Linked DNA regions of Homo sapiens: region 1 is linked to region 2. Evidence: fine-mapped expression QTL. Tissue or cell type: whole blood. Region 2 holds a variant in brackets; the other region holds the start of a gene. All regions are shown on one strand. Distances are between the middles of the regions. Region 1 holds the start of ANO6 (anoctamin 6). Region 2 overlaps ANO6 (anoctamin 6).

Region 1 (2,913 bases), 47 kb after region 2:
ACCCAACTCCTAAAATTAAGTTACTTTTAAAGTTATTAGATAACAACAGGGCTTTAGAACATCAGCAGGATGTTCTGCTTTAAAATTGATTTGGCATCCAGGAGACTAAGCCGAGTCGCCACAACAGACTGGCTTGGTAATTTAATTAGAGTCTTCTGGAGGGACACATTATATCATCATCCCCCGACAGTGTTCTCTTTAGGGACCTGATTTTCTCTCTAGTCCTCTCATTCCTTTCCCCTTCCTCACCTCCTCTCATCCCTTTTGTTTGCCCTTTTTTTCTTTTTTTGCTCTTAAAACAGCTCTCCCTCCGTTCGTCTTGTCACTTCCATGCATTTTTAACTCTAACTAGAAATGGGTCACCCCAGGTTTGCTCCCCAAGCCCCAGGGCCCCTCAGGACGAGTGAAAAAGGCCCTGCGGTCCTCCCTGCCTGGGGGAATTCCTCCTCCGATCACAGCTCCGGTGGGCTCCGCAGATGGGAAAGGGTTTCCAGCGCGCGCCTAGCGGCCACAAATCACTTCCCGGGGCCGCCCCGCCAGGCCTCAAACCTCCCAGAGCCGTCGGTCGGCTTTTACTTTAACGAGGATTCAGATGGGTCACACCCTGTCCTCCAAATGCGGGCCTGCTCCCCGGACCCCGCCCAGGGGGCTCGCCCCAGTGCCGAGGCTCCTGGGCAACCCTAGCACTCTGCGAGTCGGGGAAGTGACCCCAAAGTTGCTTCTGAGTGGAGACTTCCGCACGCAGAGGCGTCCCCGCAGCTGCCAGGCTTTTCAGGGGCAGCATCCCCCGCCCGTCAGGAGCCTGTCCTCGGGGCCACCACGCGCCCCGCGCCTCAGCCCCGCAGGGGCCGCACCGGGGCCTCAGTCTGCAAGCAGCCGGGGACAGCGGGCTTCCTCCCCTGCCCGGAGCGGCCGAGCGTCTCGGCCAACCTCCCCCGCGGAGAGCACAGCGCCCCCGCGCAGTCCCCGAACTTCTTCCCGCGTCGGCTCGGGCTCTCGGGTGGGGACGCGGGGACCCCTCGCTCACCGATATCCCCATCGTCGTCGTCCTCCTCCTCCTCCATTTGTAGCAAAACATTCCTGCTCATCTTTTTCATGTCTCCCTCAGAAGGCGGCTCCGAACTTGGCGCGAAGTTGGGGGCTCCCGGGTTCCAGAACGGCGCGGCTCTCCCAGGGGCCGGATCGGGGACCGCGGGGCGTGTGTCGCTTGGGCTCAGGGGCCGCTGAGCCCAGCCAGCGCCGGGGAAAGCCGAGCCGAGGCACCCACCGACCGGAGCCCAGAGCCGGAGGACGCCTCTCGCCTGCCGAGCGGAGCCCGGAGACTGAGCATGCCCAGTGCGGCCGCCGCGGCTCGCTGCGGAATGATTGAACTTCCCCGGTTTTACGAGGCGCGCAGAAGGAAGTCGGCAGGCGAGACTGCAGAGGGAGTAGTGCGATCCTGCGCGCGGGGGAACTAGCTGGAGGGCAAGGCGGGAACACGTGAGTGCGGGAGTGGACTGGGTTCCCTGAGCATTGATCCCAAACAGGGCAGCTTTTCGTTCCAAGGTCGTCTGTGGACACACACTGTGGCTTGCTTTGTTTTAACGTCTGATACTGGAGAGGAGGGAAATGCTGCTGCAGCACAACTGCAGAACCCTGGAAGGCGAACTCGTTTGAATGGCTTTTAAAGGCGACGTGGAGCTAATAATGGGGGGATCTTAAATTACTCTAGCTCCGAAGTGGGAAAGTGGAATCTGTACGGGTAGGTTAAGATTACGGTGGAGTCGGGGTGGGAGGAGAGGCAAAACTCAGAGAATAAGCAAAAGAAGAAGGGGCGGGACGGACGGGAGTGGGGGTGGAGAGAATTTTCTAAATAAACGTGTGCACAAAGGCAGGAGGATTTCCGCATACATTGAGGTCGCGGAGAGTGGAGAAGCGCCCCCTACTCCGCCCGCGCGAGCACACAGGGAGTGGTCGGAAGATAATCGCTGAAGCGTCCAGCCTATTTGTACAATTGAAACTAGTCCTCTGTGTCAAAGAGGGAGAAGAAGCCGAAGACCACTAGAGTTAGATGTAAACTCTTCTAAAGCAATGTGGAAAGCTATAATAAGAGAAAAGAAAGTCGTGAAATAAAATTAAGGCAGAGAGTTTTTATTTTTATTTTTAATGCTTTCCTGGAAACCAAAGGGACCGATAGGACAAATACAAAGGGATTTAGTACTTTAAAGACCCTTGGAGTTGTTTGAACGGCAGGTTTTGGGGATCGCGTGTCTACAAAACTTTTTTCAAAAAAGCTGGTACATTCAGGTTGTTCAATTTTGACTTCTCAAAAGGGCTAGAAGGTATATTTGAAATCTTGGTTATATGTGTTATTGTCTACTCATTGAAATTGTTTATATTTTTTCCACTGAAGTGCTAGGGTTATCACAATAACACTAAATCTACTGTGCATGTTTTTTCTTCCACATACTTTTTTTAAGACGGTCTCGCTCTGTTGCCGAGGTGGGAGTTCAGTAACTAGAACTACAAGCGGAGCACACCACCATGTGGGGCTTATTCTTAAATTTTTTTGTAGAGATGGGTGTCTCACTATGTTGCCCAGGCTGGTTTCGAACTCCTGGCCTCCAGCAATCCTTGCACCTCAGTTTCCTAACATTTTTAATGTTCTCTCTGAAAGAAAGAAAACATTGGGACCAATCTTAAGTGGGAAAATAGACATGAATATATACATGAAAAGACATGATGAAATTACTTTTAAGAAAATACCTGGGAAACACTATACTTGCTTCTTGAGGTACTTTTTTTGAATAAACAGAATTGTTTTTAGTATAAAGAGACAACAATACAGTACTCTGAAGATAGGAGAAAAAAATGATGGGAGAAGAAAGATGAGAAGAGATTGTTTCCTTTCACTGAACACTCTCCCCTGAGCTT
Region 2 (2,913 bases):
ATGTATCCACAGTCAGGTTTCACCAACTAACCATTGGTAAAATTAATGTTTCAGATGTCTGTGCTATTCCTACTCTCAATATTAATCATCTATTTTAAAACTTTACTCTTTGGTCCATGACAGGTTGCCACACTTACTATATCAATGGTGGGTGTATTACTTCTTAAAATTAATAAAAGCCAACCCCCCAAAAAATTATCCAAAGGGACTAAATAAGACATAACTGATTACTTTTACCAGAGTCAACAGAAACTTTCCAAGAAACAAAGAGGCCAAGATGAAGAGAACAATCAACTGTCAAACCAATTAGTAGGCCAAGGACAGAGTAGGATAAGGAATGCAAACTTATCAGCATAATTTCCAGTTCACAGGCATTAGCCAAGACATACATGTATTCAACACTCGAATAACACATCTTAGAAGGAAAGAGCAGAGCACAAAATCAGGAATCAAGATGTGGGAAGAAGAAAAAATTCCTTTAAGGAGAGAATAAAGCCTGAAGACAACATGCAGCAGGTAATGGGGTGACCAGCAGCTAAATCAAGAGATATGAGCTATAACCCCTCATTACACCCACCAAGCTGGTTTCCTCGGTTTCCTTCCGAATGTTCCTTAACTTTTCTAAGTCTTAGAATCTTTAGGTTTAGTTTGAACAGGGAAGATGATATGATATCCAAAGGTCTCCTCCAGCTCTGATAACAGACTGGGAGTTTGTTTAGACGATGAACAGATACGTTTAAAGGGGAAAAAATAGGCTACTTTTATTTCAGTGACTTGAAGTTCACAAGAATGAAATTTCACAGAAGGGAGCCAAGCTGTCAGCACGCACAGTGAACACAGCCCTAAAGCATTTGTCAAACCAAGGCCTCTGAAATGAGTACAAACACCTGGATGGTGTGCATGTTACCTGCCACATAACCTCAGCCTCAGCCACAATCCCTTTGCCTCTGACCCTCCTTGGCTCTTCCCAGTTGGATACACTCACTTCTCAGCCCCCATTCTTCATGTAATCCTGCCAGAGGCAAGTTGTACACACATCTATAAAAAGTTAGGAGAGGTTTAAGGTGAAACAGGCAATGGAAATCCTTGGTGCAGCTCCTAACCTTGAGAATAGCACAGTAGGTAACAATTATTAGTGTCCTAAAAGGACATTTTAGGACAGGCAGGGCAGCTCACGACTGTGATCCCAGCATTTTAGAAGGCCAAGGTGAGAAGAATGCTTGAGGCCAGGAGTTTAAGACCAACCCAGGCAACAAAATGAGATCCCATCTCTCCAGGAAAAAAAAAAAAAAAAAAAAAAGGCCAGGCCAGGCATGATGGTTGTAGTCCCAGCTATTCAGGAGGCTGAGGTGAGAGAATCACTTGAGCCCAGGAATTCAAAGTTGCAGTGATCGCACCACTGTACTCCAGCCTGGGTGACAGAGAAAGACTCTGTCTCTCAAGATAAAAAATAGAACATCTTGTAC[C/T]GGCCCCTGTTAGAATGCGTGCCCCAGTAATTTCACTTCTCAAGAACTTCACAAAATAATGTGAAATATAGACAAATATTTATACCTACAAATCTCTCTCAATATTATTTATAACAGCAAAAAAATCTGATGCATGCTAGATCTGCAACAATCAAGGAATGATTATGCAAATTATACCTCAAGTTAAGTTCCCCTCCTACATGATCCCATAGACCATGTACTTGCCCCTCTACAGGACTCAACCTGCCTACTAATTGGCCATTTCCTCCAACAGGTCCTGAAGGACAAAAGCCATGTTTTGTTCACTACTTTCGCCACAAAGTATAGTTTATAATAAGCACAAACTAAATATCTGTTGAATGTCTTCTGGAAAACACCTTTAAGTAAATTTTATGTGATGGAATGTTATTCAGCCATTAAATGTGGTTTGTGAAGCCTTCTTAAATATAGGGAGTGCTGATGATGAAAAGCTCTGGAAAGCCGGGCGCAGTGGCTCACGCCTGTAATCCCAGCACTCTGGGAGGCCGAGCCGGGCAGATCACCTGAGGTTGGGAGTTTGAGACCACCCTGACCAACATGGAGAAACCCTGTCTCTACTAAAAATACAAAATTAGCCAGGTGTGGTGGCACACACCTGTAATCCCAGCTGCTCGGGAGGCTGAGGCAAGAGAATTGCTTGAAGCCAGGAGGCGGAGATTGCGGTGAGCCAGAGATCGCGCCATTGCACTCCAGCCTGGGCAACAAGAGCGAAACTCCGTCTCAAAAAAGAAAAAAAAAAAAGCTCTGGAAATGGATAGTGGTGGTGATTGCACAACACTGAATATACTTAATGCCACTGAATTGTACACTTAAAAATGGTTAAAATGGTTAATTTTATGTTATGTATACTTTAACCCAATAAAAGAGATAAACAGAGAGTGCTTATGAGGCAAGTTAAGTGAAAAGGCAGGATACCATAGGTCTAAACCATATAAAACTACATTTGCATTTTTTTAAAAGGCGGGAAAGCAGCATACTAAAATATTCATGGTGGTTTATCTTTGAGGGGTAGTGTTGGGGTGATTTTTGTTTTATTTGCAGTTTTCTGTATTTCCCAAAATTTCTACAATGGCTCACATATAATATGTATAATTGGAAAAAGACATCAAGCAGCATGGATAGAAAGGTTTCCTTATCAGCAGGTTAAACGTGGATCAAAATCATTTACCTTGCTATGATCCTTGATGTATTATACTTGTATACTGCATATCATTTGTGCTTGCCTTCACTGTATAGTCCATAAAACATGCCATTTAAGTGAAAACGGTACCTTTTAAAATTGAAATGTATTATTTAGCTTTTGCTCTGCCAGAAAGTATGCCTTTCAGATGTGATGCACCGTAAGTATGCTTTGCTCAGGCTGAGAAGCAGCAACTGATGGTTGTTTTAGACACACAAGTGACCAACT

What was found.
Region 1: ANO6 starts here. The variant in region 2 is fine-mapped to the expression of ANO6 in whole blood (TOPMed, PIP 0.98).

The regions. Positions count from the first base shown.
Region 1 is chr12:45,214,506-45,217,418 of GRCh38, reverse strand. It overlaps ANO6 (anoctamin 6), which reads right to left and starts at 1,324. Exons shown (of 20, transcript NM_001025356.3): 1 at 1,028-1,324. The coding sequence starts at 1,097. It also overlaps the pseudogene PLEKHA8P1. RefSeq lists enhancers at 319-448, 1,459-1,558 and a silencer at 689-998.
Region 2 is chr12:45,261,755-45,264,667 of GRCh38, reverse strand. The region is part of intron 1 of ANO6 (anoctamin 6); the gene reads right to left. Among named protein-coding and RNA genes, the nearest start is that of ANO6, 47 kb to the right of the region's middle. The variant C/T (reference allele first, on the strand shown) is at 1,467.